7 linked regions of the Homo sapiens genome follow. The protein of the gene in region 7 purifies or fractionates together with the protein of the main gene of each other region. This does not show direct contact. Each region holds a gene or a part of one and is shown on either strand. Other genes may lie near its edges.

Evidence for each region.
Region 1: the proteins of PDGFRA (region 7) and DSG2 purify together in Homo sapiens (affinity purification with mass spectrometry; one large-scale study listed by BioGRID and IntAct). This does not show direct contact.
Region 2: the proteins of PDGFRA (region 7) and SEMA4G purify together in Homo sapiens (affinity purification with mass spectrometry; one large-scale study listed by BioGRID and IntAct). This does not show direct contact.
Region 3: the proteins of PDGFRA (region 7) and GALNT12 purify together in Homo sapiens (affinity purification with mass spectrometry; one large-scale study listed by BioGRID and IntAct). This does not show direct contact.
Region 4: the proteins of PDGFRA (region 7) and ITGA8 purify together in Homo sapiens (affinity purification with mass spectrometry; one large-scale study listed by BioGRID and IntAct). This does not show direct contact.
Region 5: the proteins of PDGFRA (region 7) and SEMA3D purify together in Homo sapiens (affinity purification with mass spectrometry; one large-scale study listed by BioGRID and IntAct). This does not show direct contact.
Region 6: the proteins of PDGFRA (region 7) and BMP8B purify together in Homo sapiens (affinity purification with mass spectrometry; one large-scale study listed by BioGRID and IntAct). This does not show direct contact.

The regions. Positions count from the first base shown.
Region 1 is NC_000018.10:31,518,677-31,522,176, forward strand, and holds part of DSG2 (desmoglein-2 preproprotein), read left to right. Parts: intron 1-1,126; coding exon 1,127-1,261; intron 1,262-2,126; coding exon 2,127-2,288; intron 2,289-2,422; coding exon 2,423-2,567; intron 2,568-3,406; coding exon 3,407-3,500.
Region 2 is NC_000010.11:100,976,004-100,979,503, forward strand, and holds part of SEMA4G (semaphorin-4G isoform 1 precursor), read left to right. Parts: intron 1-1,628; coding exon 1,629-1,727; intron 1,728-1,816; exon of another isoform or gene 1,817-2,291; coding exon 2,292-2,385; exon of another isoform or gene 2,386-2,523; coding exon 2,524-2,637; exon of another isoform or gene 2,638-2,814; coding exon of another isoform or gene 2,815-2,845; coding exon 2,846-3,015; exon of another isoform or gene 3,016-3,098; coding exon 3,099-3,268; coding exon of another isoform or gene 3,269-3,369; intron 3,370-3,500. Other genes in the region: MRPL43 (large ribosomal subunit protein mL43), read right to left, coding at 2,815-3,008. UniProt on the Homo sapiens protein: Cell surface receptor for PLXNB2. May play a role in axon guidance.
Region 3 is NC_000009.12:98,814,170-98,817,669, forward strand, and holds part of GALNT12 (polypeptide N-acetylgalactosaminyltransferase 12), read left to right. Parts: intron 1-3,500. UniProt on the Homo sapiens protein: Catalyzes the initial reaction in O-linked oligosaccharide biosynthesis, the transfer of an N-acetyl-D-galactosamine residue to a serine or threonine residue on the protein receptor.
Region 4 is NC_000010.11:15,517,423-15,520,922, reverse strand, and holds part of ITGA8 (integrin alpha-8 isoform 1 preproprotein), read left to right. Parts: intron 1-1,510; coding exon 1,511-1,633; intron 1,634-3,500. UniProt on the Homo sapiens protein: Integrin alpha-8/beta-1 functions in the genesis of kidney and probably of other organs by regulating the recruitment of mesenchymal cells into epithelial structures.
Region 5 is NC_000007.14:85,177,057-85,180,556, forward strand, and holds part of SEMA3D (semaphorin-3D precursor), read right to left. Parts: intron 1-3,500.
Region 6 is NC_000001.11:39,786,066-39,790,061, reverse strand, and holds the start of BMP8B (bone morphogenetic protein 8B preproprotein), read left to right. Parts: upstream 1-1,196; 5' UTR 1,197-1,576; coding exon 1,577-1,910; intron 1,911-3,996.
Region 7 is NC_000004.12:54,267,293-54,270,792, forward strand, and holds part of PDGFRA (platelet-derived growth factor receptor alpha isoform 1 precursor), read left to right. Parts: coding exon 1-168; intron 169-259; coding exon 260-449; intron 450-3,340; coding exon 3,341-3,456; intron 3,457-3,500. UniProt on the Homo sapiens protein: Tyrosine-protein kinase that acts as a cell-surface receptor for PDGFA, PDGFB and PDGFC and plays an essential role in the regulation of embryonic development, cell proliferation, survival and chemotaxis.

The sequences.
Region 1 (3,500 bases), on a different chromosome or scaffold from region 7:
AAATGAAAAAGTAATTTCAATTTTTTGTCATAGAAAATTTTGTTCAAGTAAAAAAAAAAATCAATGACCTAGTGATAACCAGAGTACATATTTTGAAGTAAAATACCTATTACATAGAGCAACAAAATGAGTAAAATGATAAACCAAACCTAGTATAAGGATTATTTCTGATCTTAAGATCCCAGGTCAGCTGTATTGAAATTTCCCTTGGATAAAATATATATTCACCTGTAAAACCCAACTGGAAATTTATAGAATGGTTTTCTGCCTAAGGTTCTGAAAATGAAATGGGAAATTTAATTCTTTACCCAATCCTGAAAACAATAAATTCATTAACTGGCAGTTTCCCTGGTTTTAGTCAAGTTTATATCAATAGATTACTAAGATTTAGCCTTAAAAAACATTTAGTAATTTATTTTTAAACCACAAACCACCACAGAAAAATGAAACTTCATTTTCAGTTAATAAGAAAAAACGTTTTTGACATGATCTGTTATTTTTTACTTTGCCAATTTGTAAGGCTACTAAATGATTCTTTAAACTTTTCAAACTCTCACTCTGGGAAATCATTTCTTACAGTTAAAAACAAAATTCTACTGTCTGGGCACAGTGGCTCACACTTGTAATCCCAGCACTTTGGGAGACTGAGGCGGGCGGATTGCTTGAGGCTTGAGTCTAGGAGTTCAAGGCCAGCTTAGGCAACATGGTGAAACCCCATAGCTACTAAAAATACAAAAATTAGCCAGATGTGGTGGTGCATGCCTGTAATCCCAGCTTCTTAGGAGGCTGAGGCAGGAAGATGGCTTGATCCGGGGAAGTCAAGGCTACAGTGAGCCAAGATCATGCCACTGCACTCCAGCCTGGGTGACAAAGCAAGACCCTGTCTCAAAAGAAAAAATAAACCAGAAAAAACCCTACACTTTTACTAGCTTGGAGACAATCTCTTGAGGCCCTATGCAGTTTGCTAGAATATATATATTCCCTTTTAGACAATGAAGCCTCATAGGAAATACGAAGCATACCTTAAAATTTGCACTATTTAAAAGTTTATTATGTTATAGGACAGCATACTAATGTTCTATATTTATGACACATAATAAATTTTGGCAATATTCTATTGTTATAGGTCTTAAGCACAAGAAATGAAAATAAGCTGCTTCCTAAACATCCTCATTTAGTGCGGCAAAAGCGCGCCTGGATCACCGCCCCCGTGGCTCTTCGGGAGGGAGAGGATCTGTCCAAGAAGAATCCAATTGCCAAGGTACCTCCTAAAGAGGAACATGAAATACATGCATATGACTAAAATGTGGTGTGAGAGGACTTTTATGTCTACTTTAAGATTTAAGGAAAATGTATGATGTGCTTACAGAATTTTTAAATATTCAAGATATATCTGAAAATTAGCAGAGCTTACTTTTTAGCATAAAGTATCAACTTTAAGATTCTCTTTCCCATTCCGGAAGATGCAGCATCATTGGCAAAAATATAGATAACTTTGAGTTTTGATTTAACTAAGAGTAAAGGGATTTGGCACTGGTAACACAAAATGTTCAGTGCTCAAAAGAGGATGTCATAAAATGTCATTTTCAAGATGAACTGGTGTCTATTACTAGGTAGGGGGACCATCTTCATCTGCCTGAGACAGTCGTGGTTTATGCCTGCTCTCCTGGCTTAATAATTAATATCTGTGTTTTCACTCTCAAGGGGTCCAATTTTTTTGATAAATTATGTGATAGTGTTGCTACTCTATATTTCAAAGTTGGCATGCACAAACATAAACCCTTCATTTTTTTCCCCCCAAAGCTTTTCTTCATAAGTTCTACCCATTTTGGTAATTGATGCTATAATTCTCTCCAGTTTTTCAAGCCAAAAATGTACCACACACTATCAGTTCTATTCCAAAAATATATTCCAAATCTGCTGCTTCTCTTCAACTCCACTGCCATTCCCCTAGTCCAAGTCATGTCATCTCTGGCCTGTATTACCAAAGAACTTCAGAAGGAAATTGTCCATAAAAATATTTACCTGTAAATTATAGAGAATCACTTCTTAGGCTTTTGGCTAAGATCAAATCTAGTAAATTACAGAGAGTTCAACCTGAAACATTCCTGTTATTTTTATGTTAGATACATTCTGATCTTGCAGAAGAAAGAGGACTCAAAATTACTTACAAATACACTGGAAAAGGGATTACAGAGCCACCTTTTGGTATATTTGTCTTTAACAAAGATACTGGAGAACTGAATGTTACCAGCATTCTTGATCGAGAAGAAACACCATTTTTTCTGGTAAGAAGAATAATTTTAGATTTATTAGTTTGTAGTTTTTCTGTCATAATAAGTGTCATTTGTTTTATTTTTTCATAGTATGGTAATTTAGTTTTCTTAGCTTAAATCTAATCTTATTTATGTCATGATTTCAGCTAACAGGTTACGCTTTGGATGCAAGAGGAAACAATGTAGAGAAACCCTTAGAGCTACGCATTAAGGTTCTTGATATCAATGACAACGAACCAGTGTTCACACAGGATGTCTTTGTTGGGTCTGTTGAAGAGTTGAGTGCAGCACGTAAGAGTCTTTTTTTTTTTTTTTAATAAATAAATACCTAAGATTACTTTATCCCCACTGTAAATAAACACTAAATTTCATATCTTAATGAAAGTTGAGTATTACCTACAGAACAAATGATAAGAAAGCAGTTCAGAACTGCTTTCCTTATAGGTTTAAAGGACTTTACATGCCATTGCTTTTACCCTCAGAACAGATAGGGTAGATTAATGTGATGGATAAGGTCTCTGTAGCAACTACTCAACTCTGCTATCTGCAGGAAAGCACCATAGACAATATGTAAACAAATGAGCCTAGCTGTGGTCCAATAAAACTTCATTTACAAAAACAGGTGGCTGGTTAGCTTTGGCCCTACAGCTTTGGCTATAGTTTGCTGACCTGTAAGTTGTATTATTTTTACTGTAATATTTATTCACAACATTGTTCAACACAGTGCTCTTCATGAGGACCCGAATGAGAGATTTCTTTTTGACCATGATGTAAGGAATAGTTACGCTTCTCCTGATTTGTTTGTATCTTAATAGATATCAGGATCATGTACCTGCTCATGTTACTTTCTTTGTATTGGCTACTAATACTATTATAAACAAATCTGTGCCCTTATACAGCAATTTTTCAGGACTCTACCCTCAGCCTTGCCTTCATCTTGTTTTTACTATTGTTATATCCCATTCACGCTTATGTCCTCATCCAGTTAAATGTTATATTGTGGTCAACTGTATGTGATTTTGATAAGCACCTGAAATCTTTTTTGGAACAAGCTAAAATTATAAATAAAATAACAGGTAAATATGCTTAAAGTTGAATTTCATCTTAGACATCTTTATTTCTAATGCCAGATACTCTTGTGATGAAAATCAATGCAACAGATGCAGATGAGCCCAATACCCTGAATTCGAAAATTTCCTATAGAATCGTATCTCTGGAGCCTGC
Region 2 (3,500 bases), on a different chromosome or scaffold from region 7:
AGGCAGGAAAAGCAGTGAGGAGGCTGGGGGCATCATTTGGGTCAGAGGAAGGGGCCTGAGCAGGCTTATGGAGACGGGGGACAGATGGTAGTGGCTTGTACCAGGTGAGGGAGCAGGAGGAGACACAAAGAGGCCTGTATGGATTTAAACCCTGGGTAACAGGCAAGAGGAGGAATCATTAACGTGGCAAAGGAGTCAAGAGGCTGGCAGCTGAGGGCATTTGACAGGCAGAGAAGACCAGTGTGGCTGGAGTAGGGTGAGTGAGACCAGAGGAATGGGCAGAGTCCCATCACACAGGGCTAGGAGCATGTGGGACTCTATATTCAGGTCACTGATGAGCCGATACAGTGGTGTGATCCACTTGACTTTTTTTCAGACATGGTCTCACTCTGTTGCCCAGGCTGGAGTGCAGTGGTTCACTGCAGCCTCGACCTCCTGGGCTCAAACAATTCTCTTGCCTAAGCCTCCCAAGTAGCTAGGACTACAGGTGCATGCCACCACATAGAGATGAGGTCTTGCTATATTGTCCAGGCTGGTCTTGGACTCCTGGGCTCCAGTGATCCTCCCACCTCAGCCTCCCAAAGTGCTGGGATTACAGGTGTGAGCCACCACACCTGGCTAGGTTTACATTTTTAGAATATCCCTTGGAAAGTGGTTGGAGAGTAGCAAAAGTGTGTTGTTTGGTAAAATATCTCTGGAAGGAAACTTCAGACAATAGTAACAGCAGTCTTCTTGGCAGGCAACCTGGGAGACAGGGATAAATGGGAGACTCCCTGTTTATAACATACCCCTTTGTACTTTCTAAGTTTTATACTATGTACATGTATTCATTGACTGAATAAATAGCTTTATAAAGTCGTTTTTATAAAAGAGAAGGTTGGGAGGAGCTATCAGGTAGCAACTGCAGATGTCTAAGGAAGAGGTCATGGTGGTCATTTGGACTGGGTGCTGGTGGTGGAGTCAAAGTGGACCAAGTCAAGAGACTTTTAGGACAATGAATTAATTGTGGAGAGGGACTGAATGTGGGGGTGAGGAAGTAGGAAGCAGCAAGGATGATCCCTGGCTTCTAGGTTGAGTCGTAGGTTGGATGAAGTGAGGTGGGAAAGACTGGATAAACAGGTTTAGGAAAGATGTAGGTTATGGAGGAGGGGATGAACTTGGCTTCTGACAAGGTGAGTTTGAAACATCCCTGGGATATCGGGTGGAGAGCAAGCTGGCATCTAGGGATAGATTTGGTTGTATCACCCCAGCGAGGAGGGCAGGAGTTCCAAGAATAGAAAGAGGTGCTGAGAAGGAGCTGGATGGGAGAGGAGAAGCACCTCAGGATGGTGGAATCCCTGGGAGCTCTTGAACCAGAGGTGGAGGGAACTGCAAGAGACACAGGAGATATTGGCAGAATGGTGTCAGGTAATCTGAGGGACAGAGGAGAGAAATAGGGTCATGTTACTGGGAGGCCAAGGACAGTGAGTTCCAGGAAATATTCTGGAGCAGTGAGAAGGATCACAGGTATCTTGGAAAGAACCGTTTGTCCTGTGGGTGGGGGCAAGAGCCAAACTACAAAGCTAGACTAATGGAGGAGGCTTCTAGTCAGGCAGGGGGCTCACAGCCCTCTCCACCTCATCCCACAGACGGAGTGCTTTAACCATGTGCGGTTCCTGCAGCGGCTCAATTCTACCCACCTCTATGCATGTGGGACTCACGCCTTCCAGCCCCTCTGTGCAGCCATTGTGAGTATACCTGTGTTGTGCCAGATCTCTGTTGACTTCATTAGGGATGGGATCATGTTCAAGATGCCAAAGAAGAGACTCAGAGCCAGTGAAGGAGACGGATGGTTTATTAAGGGGACTTCCATACAGGGCACTCCAGTGGCGGCGGGCTGCACTGGAGAACCATTCCCCTTTGTAAAAACCATGCAGTTTTTATAGCATTTTCACTTAGCATCCTCCCCCTAATCACCTCCACCTGGCAAACTTCATTTAACCCAAAACAAAGGGCCTTGATCCCCTGGACAGCATGTGTTCCACAGGATGGGCTAGGGGCTCAGATGTTCTTCATAGATAAGGAGTGAATCTCTAGGTTGGCCACTTGCAGATTTGGAACTCCAAACATACATTGTTTTGAGGCCATAAGGTCATTCTCAGGGGATGCTTAAGTTATTGCTGTCAGGTGCATCTGCCATACAACCTGCCCCTATCCCTGATCGCTGATCCCTGACCCCAGACTGATCTGACTTTGAGCCACTGTCCCTGCCTGTCTTCGGAACCACTTACTGCTGGTTCCTTGTTCCCTAGGATGCTGAGGCCTTCACCTTGCCAACCAGCTTCGAGGAGGGGAAGGAGAAGTGTCCTTATGACCCAGCCCGTGGCTTCACAGGCCTCATCATTGGTGAGCAGGCCTTCTTCCCTATCACAGACATGGTATTTTTAGGATGTGGATCTCATCTCTAGGACCTGCCACCATGTATATGTCATGTGCCCTGTTGAATATGACATGTCTCTCATGCCTGGAATATCCCCACGCCAGATGGAGGCCTCTACACAGCCACTAGGTATGAATTCCGGAGCATTCCTGACATCCGCCGGAGCCGCCACCCACACTCCCTGAGAACTGAGGAGACACCAATGCATTGGCTCAATGGTTAGGAGGATGAGGCACAGGATGATGGGGGGTAGGGGACTATTTCTTCATTTTTACTCCCTTGGCCAGCTGACCACCCCACCCCCAAATCCCCAGGTGAGCCTGTCCATTCCATTCCTGTGTGTTGTCAAGTGAGGGGTCAGCCTCAGAGTGAGGGAAAGGAATCCCCAGCCTGTCTCAAAAGCCTCTCAAACTGCCTGACCCACAGATGCGGAGTTTGTGTTCTCCGTCCTCGTGCGGGAGAGCAAGGCCAGTGCAGTGGGTGATGATGACAAGGTGTACTACTTCTTCACGGAGCGTGCCACTGAGGAGGGCTCTGGCAGCTTCACTCAGAGCCGCAGCAGTCACCGTGTGGCCCGTGTGGCTCGTGTCTGCAAGGTGGATTGGGCTGACGTTGGGGCACGGGTATAGAGGCTGGACCTCTGACCCTGGCCCCTTATCCCGTGCCTCTACCTCCCCAGGGAGACCTGGGAGGGAAGAAGATCCTGCAGAAGAAGTGGACTTCCTTCCTGAAAGCCCGTCTCATCTGCCACATTCCACTGTATGAGACACTGCGTGGGGTCTGCAGCCTGGATGCTGAAACCTCAAGCCGTACACACTTCTATGCAGCCTTCACGCTGAGCACACAGTGGTCAGTGCAGGGACAATCGGGAGGCAAGAAACTGCGGACAGCATAGGGGCTGGAGCAGAGGTCAATGAGGATGAGATAGGATCCACTGTGGGGAGGTCTGGCTGCAAAGTGAGAATTTTTTTTTTTTTTTAAGAGGGAGTCTTGCTCTGTTGCCAGGCTGGAGTGCAGTGGCGCGATCTCGGCTCACTGCAATCTCCGCCTCCCGGGTTCAAGTGATTATCCTGCCTCGGCC
Region 3 (3,500 bases), on a different chromosome or scaffold from region 7:
CTGTGTGTATATGCATGTGCTTGTGTATGTTCAGCCCTCCACAAACCACATAGACTGAGAATTGGAAAAGGTTGGCTCTTGAAAGGGAAATCAAGATGCAGTGTACAGTGAAGAAAGGAGAAAGGATTCTAGGCAGGTAAGACACAAAAATGTACATCACGATCTCCTTGGCCTTTTCTACAGAGGATATGATTTGATTTTTTTTAAAAGACATTTATGTGATAACCTTAATATAAAGATAAAAGAAGATCAGGAGGGGCTGGGTGCAGTGGGTCATGCCTGTAATCCCAGAACTTTAGGAGGCCAAGGAGGGCGGATCACTTGAGGTCAGGAGTTCGAGACCAGCCCTGTCCAAAATGGCGAAACCACGTCTTTACTAAAAATACAAAAATTAGCCAGGCATGGTGGCGGACACCTGTAATCCCAGCTACTTGGGAGGCTGAGGCAGGAGAATTGCCTGAACCTGGGAGGCAGAGGTGGCAGTGAGCCAAGATCCCACCACTGCACTCCAGCCTGGGTGAAAAAAAAAAAAAGGAAGATCAAGAGGCATTTACTGTATCCATTAATTCATTCATATCCATATAATAAGTAAATATTCTACCAGCAGAGATTATTGTAGTCCCTACCCAGTAGGGTTGTTAGGAAGGCTACATGAAGTAATGTGTATAAAATGCTTATATGGTGCCTCTCCTGTATTAAGCACTCAACAAATGGTACTGTTACTACCAGGTAAAGTACAAGGCGTGCTGAAAATACAGAGACAAACACAGCTCAGTCTCTGCCCTTACAAAGCACATGCAATATACCAGAAACTTAGGGAAATGATTGTGTGCTGTGATGTAGCATTAAATCCAGTTCTGAGCTTCCTTTTGTCCTCAAGGCAAAAGTGGAACCTTAAAGTGATCCATAGCTGTCTTTGTATGATCAAAAGATGCACAGCTTTTTATTAGTCAGGAAAAGGAGAAAGTGTTTTTTTCTGGAAGCAAACTTAAAGACATTTCAAAAAGATATACAGACGATCTCCGATTTAAGATCGTTTGACTTAAGATTTTTCAACTCTATCATAGTACCCATTGCAACCAACCTGGTTTTCACTTTTGGTACATATTTGGTAAATTATATGAGGTATCCAATACTTTATTATACAGTAGATTTGTGTTAGATGATTTTGCCCAACTATAGACTAATGGAAGTGTTCTGAGCACATTTAAGATAGACTAGGCTAGGCTGTGGTGTTCAGTAGGTTAGGTGTATTAAATGCATTTTCTACTTAGAATGTTTTCAACTTACGATGAGTTTATTGGGATGTAACCCCACCGTAAGTCAAGGGGCATTGGTATTGAACCTCATAAAACAGAATGCCTTTAGGAGATGTTTTCAAAAAAGAAACAGAAACTATACCAGGACAAGAAAAAGAGAAAGGGCAGAGTATTAAATTATTGCTCAATGAAGGCATTTGCTGTGAGGAACTAAAGAAATATGATCTAATCTTTTAAAAATAATATTTCTTTGTGATTATAAAAATTATAGATGTTCATTTTAGGACAATTTTAGAATGCACAAAAATATAAAAAGTAAGAATCAGCAATAATCTCACTTCTTAGAGATCACCATTGATAACATTTTGGCATATTTCTTTCTATTGTTTATTGTTTATGCGTGAACGCGCTCACATACACGTTGTTGTTTCTAGAATTGGCTATCTGTAGATTTCTATCCTGCCTTTTTGATTTAACATTATAGTGTGACCATTCTCCTTTATCATTAAATATTCTCTAAAAAATGTTATTTTGTTGTTTTACGTGGTGCCTCTCATGTAGTAAACACTCAACAAAGGGTACTGTTATTACCAGGTAAAGTACAAGGCGTGCTGAAAATACATGGCCATGATTTCCTCATGCAGCCATACTATACTATATTTTCTTCTTGTTCGACATTGAAATTGTTTGCAGCTTTTTGCTATTATAAATAATGTTACAAAGAAAAATTTTTACAACAAGCCTCCTTCAGGGTATTCTGACTATTTACTTAGGCAAGAAATGTTTATGTATGTTGATATGAGATCAAAGAAAAGAGGAACATTTTAAAGCTCTGAATATTAATTGAAAAATTGGCACCCAGCCTTCTTGTGATTTAGATGGCACAAATGAAGAGCCCACCTAGACATTCTAGAATGGTGGCCCTAGGCTATTGGTTTTAGTGGAAACACATTAAAAAAAGAAAAAAAAAAAAAAAGCAGGGCTGACAAGAGAAGAAATAAATTTTCATCCAAAATACTAAGGATGTGATTTCAGACTAAAGGATTGTTCTCTACATTGAATGCACCTCACTTTGAAAACCTCACTTCACCGTCCTTATTGTCAATTATTTCTCTTGAACTTGTGCATGTTTGAAACAAAGTTTTAGCAGCATCTTAAGAAAAAATATTTATTTTAGGTTTCACAGAAACACTTTTGTTTTTCATGTAGTGTAAGCAATTAACTTTTTTTTTTTTTTTTTGAGTCAGGATCTGGCTCTGTCACCCAGGCTGGAGTGCAATGGCGCCATCTCAGCTCACTGCCACCCCCGCCTCCCTGACTCAAACCATCCTTCCACCTCAGCCTCCTGAGTAGCTGGGACTACAGGTGTGTGCCACCATGTCCAGCTAATTTTTTTTTTTTTTTTTTTTTTTGAGACACAGTCTTGCTCTGTTGCCCAGGCTGGAGTGCAGTGGCCCCTGATCTCGGCTCACTGCAAGCTCTGCCTTCCGGGTTCATGCCATTCTCCTGCCTCAGCCTCCCAAGTAGCTGGGACTACAGGCACCAGCCACCACGCCTGGCTAATTTTTTGTATTTTTTTAGTAGAGACGGGGTTTCACCTTGTTAGCCAGGATGGTCTTGATCTCCTGACCTCGTGATTCACCCGCCTCGGCCTCCCGAAGTGCTGGGATTACAGGCGTGGGCCACTGTGCCCAGCCCAGCTAATTTTTGTATTTTTGGTAGAGACAGGTTTTTGCCATGTTGCCCAGGCTGATCTCCAACTCCTGGGCTCAAGCGATCCTCCCACCTTGGCCTCTCAAAATGCTGGGATTACAGGTGTGAGCTACCGCGCCTAGCCTCGCGGTTAATTCTTTCTGAGGCTCCTGGTGAGCTACAACTCAACACAATCTAGCTTTTCTATGCATCTTGTCTAGTATTCAGGGGCTTAATAATGAAGACGCAGTTATTAATATTTTTATAATACACACACATATGTTTTCCATTTGCTATAACATGTATTTGTTGGAGGGGGGATGTTTCTTTTTGTTTTTTTGTTTTGTTTTGTTTGTTTTTGAGATGGAGTTTTGCTCTTGTTGCCCAGGCTGGAGTGCAATGGCGCGATCTTGGCTCACTGCAACCTCCGCCTCCCAGGTTCAAGTGATTCTCCTGCCTCAGCCTCCGGAGTAGCTGGGACTACAGGTGCCCACCACCACGTTCTGCTAATTTTTGTATTTTTAGTAGAGACGGGGTTTCACTATGTTG
Region 4 (3,500 bases), on a different chromosome or scaffold from region 7:
AAATCTCAGAGCCGCCAACCTTAGTCATTAGTCTCAGCCTCTCCTGACGGGTGGGTTATAGAATGTGTCCTGGAGTTCTTGAGTGTGTTTCAGGATTGAAATGATCCTTTCAACCAACACAATTAAAACTAGGAGACCTTAGACCAGCTGAGTGGAGGCAATGCTTGCCACTCTGATAAAACCGGAATACTACGTTAGTGAATAATGTCTGCATCCAAGAATAATGTAGCGCTCTTTTCTTTGACAAAAGGTTTTAGCAGCATGGCTGGGTCTCTCCTTGGGAATCTGCAGCTTCTTTGCTGCCTCGGCCTCCGGAGGCACAGGCCTCCAACACAGGAGCAATAGAAGTGCTTCTGCCCACATAGGGAGTGGTTCATAGACACTGAGCATGCAGTCAGATTGGGAAGGTCTCATTTTCCTCTAAGCCCCCTTGCAACAGTGCGGGATGAAATGGGCTCCAGTCCCCATATGATCTTTGTTTTTGTGTTTTTGTTTTTTGGCGGGAAGGAGAAAGAAGAGTGTCACCCTGTTGCCTAGGCTGGAGTGCAGTGGCATGATCTTGGCTCACTACAACCTCCACCTCCCAGGTTCAAGCAATTTTCGTGTGTCAGCCTCCTGAGTAGCTGGGATTACAGGTGTGCGCCACCACACCCAGCTAATTTTTTGTATCTTTAGTGGAGATGGGGTTTCACCATGTTGCCAAGTCTGGTCTCGACCTCCTGAGCTCAGGCAATCCACCCACCTTGGCCTCCCAAAGTGCTAGGATTACAGGCATGAGCCACCGCTCTGGCCTGATCTTTGGATTTAGGATTAAAGTCATCTCCAACGCATCAAAAAAAATTGAACATTCACTTTGCACACTACAGTTACTTCCATAAAATACAAGATGCCTAGCCTCATGCTCTGGGATATCCTTCACTGATACAGCACAGAATCTAGGGATAAAGAGACCTAGTATTGACACTAATTCGTTGTGTGAATGAATCACTTAGTCCCTCTGGGAGTTAATTTTCTCACCTGTAAAATGAGGGGATTAGATTAGAGATTTCTACCCTTCTTGCACATCCAAGGATTCATGGTTGTTCACAAGCTTACCTCTCTCAATGAGGCTAGCTGAGTTCTAAGGAGACACATGGTAGACAGATTCATTCAGTTTTTTATTGAGTCTACTTTTGGCCATTGTTCCCATAAAAGTTCCAGCCCAAGTGAAGGCCATTCCTTTCCACCTTGTCAATTCCTGATGCACTCAATTCTATTCTAGGGTTTCTGTGATGCAAAGCCACCCACCCACCAAATCTCTAATTAGACTTTTACAGAACCAAGCAGATCTAGGAACATGCTAGCTTTTAAGAGTTCATGTTCGAGTGCTACCTCTCAAATATCCCCTAGATGATTTCAATTGTCATATGGATCCTTTCAGATCAACTTCCGATGTTGTACTGGTAATTACTATTTTATTTCACCAAATAGTTTTCGCATTAGAGCTCATTTGCTTTGTTTTCCATTTCAGATTAAGACATCAGTTATTTGGGCAACTCCGAATGTTTCCTTCTCAATCCCATTATGGGTAATAATACTAGCAATACTTCTTGGATTGTTGGTTCTCGCCATTTTAACCTTAGCTTTATGGAAGGTAAGTTGATTTACTTTGTTTTCCTTTTAAACTAGAGGGGCTGTTGAGGGAATTTAGAGGGATACAGTTAGGGATTTTAAAAGACAATTATGGAGGCATTTTTGGAAATTTTGAACAGTCTGAAGGATATAAAGGGAAAATCGTGTCTTGTTTGCTTTGGCATACTTAATATGTTTATATAGCTGACATTTAAGATGACTAGAGGTGCTTAATGTTGCTTTCATCTTGAGATTTCTTGTAAATAAATGTAGAGAGAGTTAGGCTGTATTAACTAAGGCCTGTGATCTTCTTTCCAATATGCTTAGAGTGATAATATTCTAATGAAGACTTCTTTTTCTTGTTTAATTAACCAAGATCATAAGCTTTTTATTGACATGGCCCTATCATCAATCCTTTGACATTTTTTATAAGCACTATGCAAATGCAATTAATATAGGTCAATTCTGATTTTTAATTTCAACTACTAATGAGGCCAAATAGATTATGCATGTGATAGGATGCCTGGACTTGGTTTTTAATCTTGCCAATTAGTTTGTCTCCACTGGGAAGCCTGAACTTAGTCTTTGATGTGTTTTACTGAGGTTTGTTCTAAAAGTCCACAACAGGAATTAATTTCTGGCCCACCAACCTAAACAATTGCCAAGTTTCACAGAGCCTTCCATTCCCAAATGGAAATGACGTCCCAGTTACATAAGAGTAATTAACCCAGTCACATCTTTGATAACTATGTGGTTTTCCCTAAAATCATAGTGCGCTTTTATTTTGAAACAATATGCAGCATGACTAATAGACCTATAAACTGAGAAAACCTTGGCTTTGAGTTAAGGAATGGCGTTTCTGATCGTTATCAGCTCTTTGTGACATCCTACACCCATGTGGTCTATGACATGCCTTTAGAATGGACTTTTGTGTTGTTCTGTCACTCATAGTAACTGTATTTCCAATGAGTATAAGATACAACCATGTGTGCCAATTGACAGGATATTCCAGTAGCTCTGAGAAAGAGAGATGACTCAATGTCTCTAAGCCAAACCCAGTTAATTGGCTTCCAACATGAGAAACAGAAGAAAGAATTGAGGTTCCAGGTGTCTAGGAAAATATGTAGTTTACTTGGCAAAGTACTAATTTGACACTGAAGAGGAGGAAAATCCTAGAGTCACCTCTTCCCTGAGTTTCTGGCTAACCTTTGGAAAGTCACTAAGATTCTGTGCCTACCTGGTTCTGGCATTGAAATAAGTGACAAATCTATTCTCCCTCTATATATGCTCTATGTTCCACCAAGCACCGAGGGATGTGTGGCCATCTCTTCACTTCTTTCTATAATCCACCCCAAAGCAGCTGACAGGATACTTTAGGAGACAATCTCCTTTTCCTAGTCAATAGTTAGTGCTTCTGCTCCAGTAAGCATGTGGGAAATCCTTGGGACACATTGCTGTGATCTCAGGAAAATATCCAAGGTCCATAAGTGGTTTGTATGAAAGAGGGACATCTTCCACTCCAACTACAGGACAGGAGAAAGGGTGTGAGCACTCTGCCCTCCTGCTCACCTTGCCTATGCAATAAACTCCTCTCTACAAGTAACAAACACTCTGCTCGAACCTCCTAATTTGGAGAAACAGACTGATTATACGTGCAGAGCTCCAGGCTCCTTCGAAAATACATAAAGGGCCAGGTGTGGTGGCTCACGCCTGTAATCCCAGCACTTTGGGAAGCTGAGACAGGTGGATCACTTGTGGTCAGGAGTTCAACACCAGCCTGGCCAACATGGCAAAACCCCATCTCTCCTACAAATACAAAAATTAGCTGGGTGTGGTGGTGCAGGCCTGTAATCCCAGCTACTCCGGAGGCTGAGGCAGGAGAATCGCTT
Region 5 (3,500 bases), on a different chromosome or scaffold from region 7:
TTTGCGTAGGTTCATTCTATGATGTTTGCACAATGACAAAATTGCCTAACAACATATTCCTCAGAACATATCCCTGTCATTAAATGATACATGACTGTATAGTGCATGTATTCAGACATGGATGTATCTGTGTATAGATATGCATATATATGTGTAAAATATAATAGGGAGATAGTAAGATGGTAGCCATATTTGCTGGCCACTCTATATTGTGGAACACATGTAAGTTTTAGCTTCTAAAAGTTATTTTGGGGGGAGGTAGAAGCCTCTTGGGTATAATTTAATATTCAAAATAGTCATGGTATATATATTATACATATAACATTTGTTGGAGAGTGATTCTTCAGGCACTTAATGTGGTAGATGTTATTGAGATTGAAAGAGAAAAAAAGAGTAAGTAGTCACACAGTAATTTTGGCAAGAATCTTGGAAGCATAATCATCATCTGGAATTGAAAACATCTGGCACTGATGTTGTGTCTTGTCAATATCATTAAAATAGCAAAGACAGATGTAAAAAATGCACATATTTTTTAAGTGCTTAAGATTGATTTATAGAGATGACTAATAAATAGCATTTTTTGCATGAGAGCCTATAATTACAATCATAATTTGAAATCTGAATGTTTTTAGTAATTCAAATGTGTTATTTTATTAGAAAAATAAGTAATTACAAGAACAGCTAATTTACAGTATTTATTTATTATGATAGTATTTATTATAAACAGAAAAAATGGCAGCAAGGTGGTAAATGGAAGTAGAGGAAAACATAAGCATTAAGTTGAAAGGCACTGATATGGTCTGGTTCTGTGTTCCACCCAAATTTCATCTTGAATTGTAATCCAAATTGTAATACCCATGCATTGTGCAAGGGATCTCATGGGAGGTGATTAGGTCATGAGGGCAGTTCCCCCATGCTGTTCTCGTGATAGTGAGTGAGTTCTCATGAGACCTGATGGTATTATAAGGGGCTTTCCCCCACTTCTCTCTGCACTTCTATCTCCTGCTGCCATGTGAAGAAGGACAGGTTTGCTTCCCCTTCTGCCATGATTGTAAGTTTCCTGAGGCCTACCCAGCCATGTGGAACTGTGAATCAATTAAACCTCTTTCCTTAGAAATTACCCAGTCTCAGGTATTTCTTCACAGCAGCATGAAAACAAGCTAACACAGTAAATCAGTACTGGATAGTGTGGTGCTGCTGTAAAGATACCTGAAAATGTGGAAGCGACTTTGGAACTGGGTAACAGGCAGAGGTTGGAATGGTGTGAAGGGCTCAGAAGAAGACAGGAAGATGTGAGAAAGTCTGAAACTTCTGAGACTTGTTGAATGGTTTTGACCAAAATGCTTATAATGATATGAACAATGAAGTGCAGGCTGAGGTGGTTTTAGATGGAGATGAGAAATGTGTTGGGAACTGGATAAAGGTGTCTCTTGCTATGTTTTAGCAAAGAGACTGGTGGCATTTTGCCTCAGCCCCAGAGATCTGTGGAGCTTTGAACTTGAGAGAGATGATTTAGGGTATCTGGCAGAAAAAATTTCTAACTGGCAAAGGGCTCAAGAGTAAACAGAGCAAAAAAATTTGGAAAATTTGCCTCCTGATGATGTAACAGAAAAGAAAAACCCATTTTCTGAGGAAAAATTTAAGCCTGTGGCAGAAATTTGCATAAGTAACTAGGAGCCAAATGTTAAACATGAAGACAATGGGGAAATGTCTCCAGGGCATGTCAGAGACTTCACAGCAGCCCTTCCTGTCACAGGCCTGGAGGCCTAGAAGAAAAACGTTTCATGGGCTGGATCCAGGGCCTCCCTGCTGTGTGCAGCCTTGGACTTGGTGCCCTGTGTTCCAGGTGCTCCAGCCGTGGCTAAAAGGGGCCAAGTTACAGCTCAGGCCATTGCTTAAGAGGGTGCAACCTAAGTCTTGGCAGCTTCCATGTGGTGTTGGTCCTGCAGGTGCAAAGAAGTCAAGAATGAGATTTGGGAAACTCTGCCTAGATTTCACAGGATGTATGGAAATGCATGGATGTCCTGGCAGAAGTCTGCTGCAGGAGAAGAGCCCTCATGGAGAACCTCTGCTAGGGAAGTACAGAAGGGAAATGTGGGGTGAGAGCCCTCACAAAGTAATGGAGTAGTGGCCAGAGCCTCCTGTAGGGGCACTGCATAGTGGAGCTGTGAGAAGAGGGCCACCATCCTCAAGACTCCAGAATGGTAGATCCACTGACAGCTTGCACTGTGCTGGAAAAGCCGCAGACACTCAATGCTGACCTGTGAAAGCAGCCAGGAGTGGGGCTGTACCTTGCAAAGCCACAGGAGCAGAGCTTCCCCAGGCTTTGAGAGCACACCTCTTGTATCAGCATAACCTGGATATGAGACATGGAGTCAAAGGAGATCATTTTGGAACTTTAAGGTTTAATGACTACTTTATTGAATTTTAGACTTGCATGGGGCCTGTAGCTTCTTCGTTTTGGCCAATTTCCCCTTTTGGAATGGGTGCATTTCCCCAATGCCTGTACCCCAATTATATTTTGAAGTAACTAACTTGCTTTTGATTTTCCAGGTGCATATCTGGAAGAGACTTGCTTTGTCTCAGATGAGACTATGGACTTGAACTTTTTTTTTTTTTTTTTGAGACGGAATCTCGCTCTTTTGCCCAGGCCGGACTGCAGTGGTGCTATCTCGGCTCACTGCAAGCTCCGCCTCCTGGGCTCACACCATTCTCCTGCCTCAGCCTCCTGAGTAGCTGGGATTACAGGCGCCCGCCACTGTGCCTGGCTAATTTTTTGTATTTTTAGTAGAGATGGGGTTTCACCGTGTTAGCCAAGATGGTCTTGATCTCCTGACCTCGTGATCCACCTGCCTCAGCCTCCCAAAGTGCTGGGATTACAGGCATGAGCCATCGCACCCAGCCGGACTTGGACTTTTGAGTTAATGCTGAAATGAGTTAAGACTTTGGGGAACTGTTGGAAAAGCATAATTGTGTTTTGAAATTTGATAAAGATGACATTTGAGAGGGGTCAGGGTCAGAATGATATGATTTGGCTCTGTGTCCCCACCTAAATCTTATGTTGAATTGTAATCTGAATTATAATCCCTATGTGTTGGGAGAGGGACCTCATGTGAGGTGACTAGGTCATGGGAGCAGTTTTCCCATGCTGTTCTTATGATAGTGAGTGAGTTCTCACAAGACATAAGGGTTTTATAAGTGTTTTTTCCCTCTTTCCCCTGCACTTCTCTCTCCTGCTGCCATGTGAAGAAGGACATGTTTGCTTCCCCTTCCACTATGATTATAAGTTTCCTGAGGCCTCCCCAGCCATGTGGAACTGTCAGTCAACTAAACCTCTTTCCTTTATAAATTACTCAATCTTGGATATGTCTTCATAGCAGTGTGAAAATGACTAATACATGCATTAATCTTATTGACACCAGAGAATGGTTCACTATTAGTAAAGTTTTCCACTATATAATTTAAATATAACATTTAAGATAGACTTCATTTTTTTGAAT
Region 6 (3,996 bases), on a different chromosome or scaffold from region 7:
TAATCACTGGTGCCCAGGGCCCTCGTCTAGCCCCTGTGAGGCCCTTTGCAGTCCCTCCCTTGCCAGCCCCTCCAGCCTCCGCCATTTGCCCCGTGGGCTCTCCAGGTTCCACTTGAGGAGCTGCCCCCTGCCCCAGCCCAGCTCTACTGCTGTGTGACCTAGCGTAAGTCCCTTAACCGCTGTGTGCCTCAGTTTCCTCATTTGTTAAAAGAGGAGGTTCCAGTGGTAGGTACCCCCTGACGATGTGCAAGCATCACAGAAATGACACAAGACACACACTGAGAACATGCCTCGCGCGTGGCAAGTGCTGACTGTTACCTGCCATTATTAGGCTCCCCCGCCGGGGTCTCAGGGCCTTGGCACAAGCTCTTCCCTCTGCTTGGAGCACTTTCCTCCACTGACCTTTCCTGGCGCTCCAGGTCAACTCCAGGAGCCTTCCCAGTACAGTCTAGGTGCCTTCTCCTTCCGCAGCGCCTGAACCACACAGGAATAAGTAAGGCGAGAGCGCGCCCAGAGAAGAGCAGAGAGTGCAGAAAGGGGCTGAGTTAGTAGAGGCATTTCCGCGGGGATCCTTCTCCTGCCAGGCCTGCACCGGGGCCGTGGCGACTGAGAAGTGCACAGGTGGCTCCCGGGTGCTCCAGAAGGGCCCCAGAGCTCCTGGCCCGGCTAAAGGCAGGAGGCGGGTGCGCGTCTCCCCCGCGAAGCTGGATCAGTACTGGGGGCGCAGGGGGCGCACGCCGCGCAGCGAGGGCTGGCGGGGGCGGCCTGCCTGGGGCGCTGCCCAGGCTCACGCGGGAGCCAGGTGGGGGCGCGGGGAGGAGCAGCTGAGCAGGTGCCGGGAAGGAGGCGCCTGCAGCATGCCATGGCGACCCGCGCACGCGACGGCGGGGCGGCCGGGTGGCACCACTGGCGGGACCGGAAGGGCGCCGCGGCCCTAGGATCTCTGCGCCGAGGCCCGCGGCGGAAGCCACGACGGCCATGACCACGCTGACGCCCAGGCTGCGAGCCCCTCGCCCGGGCCGCCTGCCCACCCGCCACGCCCAGGTAGCACCTCGGGGTCTCCCCACCCGCGACACCGGCCGCAGCCCCGGGCCCCCTCGCAGGCGTGGCCCCCGCTCCCAGGCCCCGCCCCCGCCCCCCCATTGGTCAGTCCCGGGGTGGGGGCGGGCGACGCGGACCGCTGGGCAGGGCAGGGCAGGGACTCGCGGGAACCGCACCAAGCGGGTGGCTGCAGGAGCTCGCCCATCGCCCCTGCGCTGCTCGGACCGCGGCCACAGCCGGACTGGCGGGTACGGCGGCGACAGACGGATTGGCCGAGAGTCCCAGTCCGCAGAGTAGCCCCGGCCTCGAGGCGGTGGCGTCCGCGTCCTCTCGTCCAGGAGCCAGGACAGGTGTCGCGCGGCGGGCGCTCCAGGGACCGCGCTGAGGCCGCGGTCGCCGCCCGTCCCGCCCCGCCCCGCCGCCCGCCGCCCGCCGAGCCCAGCCTCCTTGCCGTCGGGGCGTCCCCAGGCCCTGGGTCGGCCGCGGAGCCGATGCGCGCCCGCTGAGCGCCCCAGCTGAGCGCCCCCGGCCTGCCATGACCGCGCTCCCCGGCCCGCTCTGGCTCCTGGGCCTGGCGCTATGCGCGCTGGGCGGGGGCGGCCCCGGCCTGCGACCCCCGCCCGGCTGTCCCCAGCGACGTCTGGGCGCGCGCGAGCGCCGGGACGTGCAGCGCGAGATCCTGGCGGTGCTCGGGCTGCCTGGGCGGCCCCGGCCCCGCGCGCCACCCGCCGCCTCCCGGCTGCCCGCGTCCGCGCCGCTCTTCATGCTGGACCTGTACCACGCCATGGCCGGCGACGACGACGAGGACGGCGCGCCCGCGGAGCGGCGCCTGGGCCGCGCCGACCTGGTCATGAGCTTCGTTAACATGGGTGAGTGCGGCCGCCCGCGCGGGGACCCTCGGAGTAAGCTGGCTGCAGGGGAGGGGCGCGCATCCGCGGGCTGTGCCGGGCCCTGGCCGAACGGGGAGTCACAGACGGTGGACGCGAACCACAGGGGAGTGGGACCGCCGTGGTTAGGGAAGGTCTAAGGGTCATGGGGGCCCCCTGGGCTGCGGGGTGGTCAGGAGCAGAGTGTGGGGGACTGTGGACTCCCAGGCGCTGCCTTCACCCTGCCCCAAACACACCCAGGAGTAAGAATCAGGTGATGTCTTTGCCCACCTGGGCTGCCCCGGGAAGACAGCCTGGTCCTGGGGAGACAGGTGAGTAAACAGAGGCCGGGATGCTGTCACTGTGATAAGGGCAGTACTGAGGAGAGGGACAAAGTTCAGCGTGGAAACCTGTGGTCACATCGGAGTGACCAGAGCTGAGTCGCGTGCCCTGAGTCCACAGCAGGCTCTTCTCTGTGCGGAGCCTGGGTGGGGTGCGGCTGTCAGGGGGGCGGCTGGGGAAGGAGCAAACTCAGCTCGCTGGGGCAGGGACTGTTGCCTTGTCACCCTGGGCCCAACACCTGGGATGTGATCTGGTATGGGGTGAGTGTCCAGTCCTGTGGAATGGTCCAGTGGGCAGCTGGACCCACTTTGTTCTCCCAGGCAAAGCCCGGCTTTTCCTGTCTGCAAATATCTTGTATCAAACCCTGGAGCTATTTATTCCCTAAGATCTCAGAGATTTTTTTTCCAGTACTAAACTCTTTGGTCTATGGTCATGTAGTTACTATTGGTCAGGTCACCCATCTGCTTTGCCTCCTGTCTGTGGCTAGTGACAGTCTGGGGTCTGGGGAACCAAGGACCACAGATCAGCCCAAAGTCGGGGAGCTGTGGGGCTGAGAGGAGGGAGAGGGTCCCTGGCCCCGGCCATCAGCCTCCCTCCACAGACAGCATCATTAATTCTTCATCCTCCCGACAACCCTGATAACAGCCACGGTCTTCATCCCCATCTCCCAGATGAGGACAGTGAGGCTCAGAGAGGCAGCGCCATGCCTAGGACAGCGCAGCCTCTACGCTGCTGAGCCAGGACAGGCCCAGGAAGCCTGACTGTCCATCCAGGGCTCAAAGAGATGACATTTCTGTTGTCAGGTCAGGCTTTCAAGGTGCAGAGACCTTTCTGAGGAGTCTGGGCTGAGGAAAACAGGGGACTGAGCCGCAGCAGGTTTTGTGGGGCCATCAGCCATTTGCTTCCTACACTAGGACAGAAGAGGGCATGGCCAAGCCTCTGCTTCCCGCAACCCAGAGCTGGTGGTGGAGGCGAGCAGCAGGAGGCAGCCATTCACCATCACTGAGCGCCCAGTGCCAGGGACAGGACTCTAGCCGGTGGGATCTGGATGCTGCCTTTGTAGTTAGAGGACAGGGTGGGGATGTGGGACAGAGGAGACCATCTGTGAAGCTGGGGCTGGGGCTCTGTCATCAGGACAGGCTGACACTGGGCTCAGGACCAAGAAGAGTTGTGGATGGAGTCGTCCAAGAATGTCCCCAGGGAGCCGCCCATCAGAATGCGTCACCACCCAGCCCACATCCGACCTCCCCTGGCATCCCCTGGGTCAAGGCATGCACAGCCTGGTGGGGCTATTGCTATGAATTGGGCAGGGCCTACCCCTCTGTGTGACCTTAGGAAAGTTCCTCACCCTCTCAGCCTTCGTTGCTCCTTGTAAAATGAGGTGCCTGGTGATCTGTCCTCAGGGTTGTTGTGTGATTGGTAGAGGGGCAGGAGTAGAAAGCCTGTGCTGCTCCCCTCAGAGGGTGAACCTGGACCTGGGCACTGTTGGCCCCAGGCCCTCCCAGCTGTGGCCTAGTTCGGAGGTGACAGGAACATCTCCACATGTCTTATACACATGTAAAACCTAGAAATGGATTCTAAAAGCCAATCAAAAAGTGTTTGTACCTGTTTTTAGAATGAAAAGTAGCATGTGAACTTTCACAGCCTTACAATTCCTCATTTAACTCATGTGAGACTGTTTTGCCAGCCCTGTTTCATGGGCTCAGAGAGGTTAAATAGCCAGCCCAGGGCCACACCGCACATCCGG
Region 7 (3,500 bases):
GCAAAGGCATCACAATGCTGGAAGAAATCAAAGTCCCATCCATCAAATTGGTGTACACTTTGACGGTCCCCGAGGCCACGGTGAAAGACAGTGGAGATTACGAATGTGCTGCCCGCCAGGCTACCAGGGAGGTCAAAGAAATGAAGAAAGTCACTATTTCTGTCCATGGTACATTCCGCTTTCTAAAATGTCAGTTGTCCATGCTGCTCGGGATCCATATGTGGTAATCATTATTTAATGGAAACTCTTCCCTGTACAGAGAAAGGTTTCATTGAAATCAAACCCACCTTCAGCCAGTTGGAAGCTGTCAACCTGCATGAAGTCAAACATTTTGTTGTAGAGGTGCGGGCCTACCCACCTCCCAGGATATCCTGGCTGAAAAACAATCTGACTCTGATTGAAAATCTCACTGAGATCACCACTGATGTGGAAAAGATTCAGGAAATAAGGTAAAGAAACTCTCTGCCCAAGTATGCCTTTTTTTAGTGTGCATCAGAGGCGGACTGAGGTTTGTGTGTGTCTTACAACCCAGACCCAAAGTCAGTCTAGAAAATGTAACAATCTGAGTTAAGAGATGCTTGAAATCACATCCCTTTAATGATAACATTGCAAAGTGGTATTAGTATGCTGGTAAGTATTTAATGAGAAGATGAGAAGAAAGAACTAAAAGCTCTGGCCCCTGGGGAAAGACAGGTCACTGGATTCAGCTAGGGTGGAAGAAAGGAAGTAAAATTGGACTCACCAGGATTGAATAGATTGAATATATTCCCTGATGTTCATCATCCATATCGCAAGTAGACAGATATGGTGATTACACCCATGAGGCAGTTATCACATCACCTTACGTGAAAGTTAACGTCATAGGCTTAATCTGGAACCCATTTGCCCTAATTGAGGACTCCACAGGAAAGAAGAGTAGAGCCTGGCTAATCAGGAGAGAGATGTGCAGTGAGTTGCTTGGATCCCTACCTTTTAATCAGAATGGTAGATTGCTCTCATCTCTTAATTGGTGGTGGAGTTTTGAATGAGTCACCCCTCAGCCACAGTTTCCTCATCTACAATGTAGGATAAACAATACCTTATGTCCTTCAAGGCAAGGAATTGGATCAGATGATATCATGAGGCCTCTTAAGGTTTTAAGCTGTGATTAGAACCCAAGAGTCAGAAGATACATCTCACAGCACCCAGCTAACCAGCCCTATACTTTTGTCAGAAATCATCTCAGAAAGACAAAGTCAGTCCTGTATTTCAAGCCTTCAGGAGGAAGAACAGAGCCTTTCTCATCAGTTCCATTCACCTCAGGATTTGCTTTCTTCTTTGTGAACTAAATTCCACGTGTAATTGAGAAGCAATGTCTGAGAAAATGGAATTTTACAGCCTCTATAGAATAGTAAAGGAAAAATGAAGTGGGATACTGAATCTGGAAGGCTTTCTGTTGACACAAAATGAAGGTGTACAACAAGGAGGGCAGCTTTCCACGAGGAACTTCCATGAGGCTGTGCAGCCAGAGAGGAATAGGGTAACAACCCTGGTACAGCTAACACCTCCAACACGTGTGTGAGCACTGTCTGCAAGCCATAATCCATAGCAGTGGCAGGACAGGCTCGCCAACTGAGTGGTTCTGGAAAGCTGCCTTTTCCTTTTAGTGATTCAAGGATGCTTCAACGTGGATTTTTTAGTTCCTGTTATGAGCCAGTGAATACAAAGATGAACATGGTAGATGGGGGATCTGGCTTCCTGGAGCTTAAAACTCCAGGATGGGGGATCTGGCTTTCCTGGAGCAAGAAAACCAGTGGTTTTCTTGGCCGAAGAAGTGAAGAGAACAAACAGCAGAGGATAATTTGGTAATCAGCATCCTAGTGTGCCCCAGGGTACTCTCTTAAGGAAATCCAGTCCTGGAGCACACCCAGTATGGTCCAGCCTGCTGTCTTCGTAGGTCTGAGTGCCCCAGTATTTGCAAAGTGTTTTGGAGCCTATGAAATGCTTTCACACATACAATCTCCTTTAATTAACTCTCACAATGACTCTGTGCTATGTGTACAATTATCACGTTTTACACACAAGGAAACTGAGGCATGGAGCATTGTAATAATACCCGAGATCTTCTCACTCCATGACCAATGCTTTTCTTCTCCATTCCAGTTGCTTTTTCAACTGTGATGATTTATAAAGGACAATCAAATGGGCACATACTATATTTATGCACATACATACACACACACACACACACACACACACACACAACCAGATGTCATTTATAATCCATGTAAAATATTTTTGGGGAAGTTTCTCTTTAATAAAGTTTGAAGAGACATATATTTTTTTTTTTTGAAGAGGCATATTTTTTCTAACTTTTTTTTTTTTTTTTGAGATGGAGTCTTGCTCTGTCACCCAGGCTGGAGTGCAGCGGTACGATCACGGCTCACTGCAACCTCCGCCTCCTGGGTTCAAGCGATTCTTCAGCTTCAGCCTCCTGAGTAGCTGGGATTACAGGCATGTGCCACCATGCCTGGCTAATTTTTTTTTTTTTGTATTTTTAGTAGAGATGGGGGTTTCACCATGTTTGTGAGGCTGGTCTCGAACTCCTGACCTCAAGTGATTCACCTACCTTGGCCTCCCAAAGTGCTGGGATTACAGGTGTGAGTCATCACACCCAGCCTATAACTTTTTTTTAATAGGTGATAGAATCCCGTGCTTGAAAAATAATCAAACAAAAAGAGAATGCATTGTAAGAAGCCTCACTGTACTCCTGTCCCCAGCTGCCCAGTTCTCCCCTCCTCCCCACAGGGAAACATCTTCATTAGTTTCATTAGGTTCTTATGAAACCTTCCAGAGTTTCTTTAAGCAAAATACAAGCAAGTAGGACTGTCATATCCTGCAGACCGCTACATACAAATACATAGAAAGTGTCCTCATTCTATCCTCCAGTGATATTCCATTTTTTGGCTGAACCACCTAAATGATGGATATTTAGGGGAAGCAAGTATTTTTTAAAAAAGGTAAAAATCAAAGGTTTTTATTTTTTATTTTTTTAAAGAAAAGTTGGTAGGCTGTGTTTATTCATTCAGAAGTCAGGCCGTGGCTGAACTGATAGCTCTTGGAGATGGCCATTGCTCATCTCTGAATGTCTGGTTTTCTCTTGTAAGAATTGTGTGTATGATCCAGACCTTCAGTGTGTGCACTATATATTGAGAATTCCAGAAGAGATGATATGGACAAGAAAAAAAGATGACTTTACTTTTTACAGTAAAAATAAAACTTAAATTGAAGAGTACAATTGTTTAAACAATTGGAACTTACTTAGCTACTGCTTGTTGAAACAAAATCCTTTTTTTAAAAGGTATCGAAGCAAATTAAAGCTGATCCGTGCTAAGGAAGAAGACAGTGGCCATTATACTATTGTAGCTCAAAATGAAGATGCTGTGAAGAGCTATACTTTTGAACTGTTAACTCAAGGTATGTAAAGGGAGTATAAAGATAATGCTAGCTCTGTAGATGAG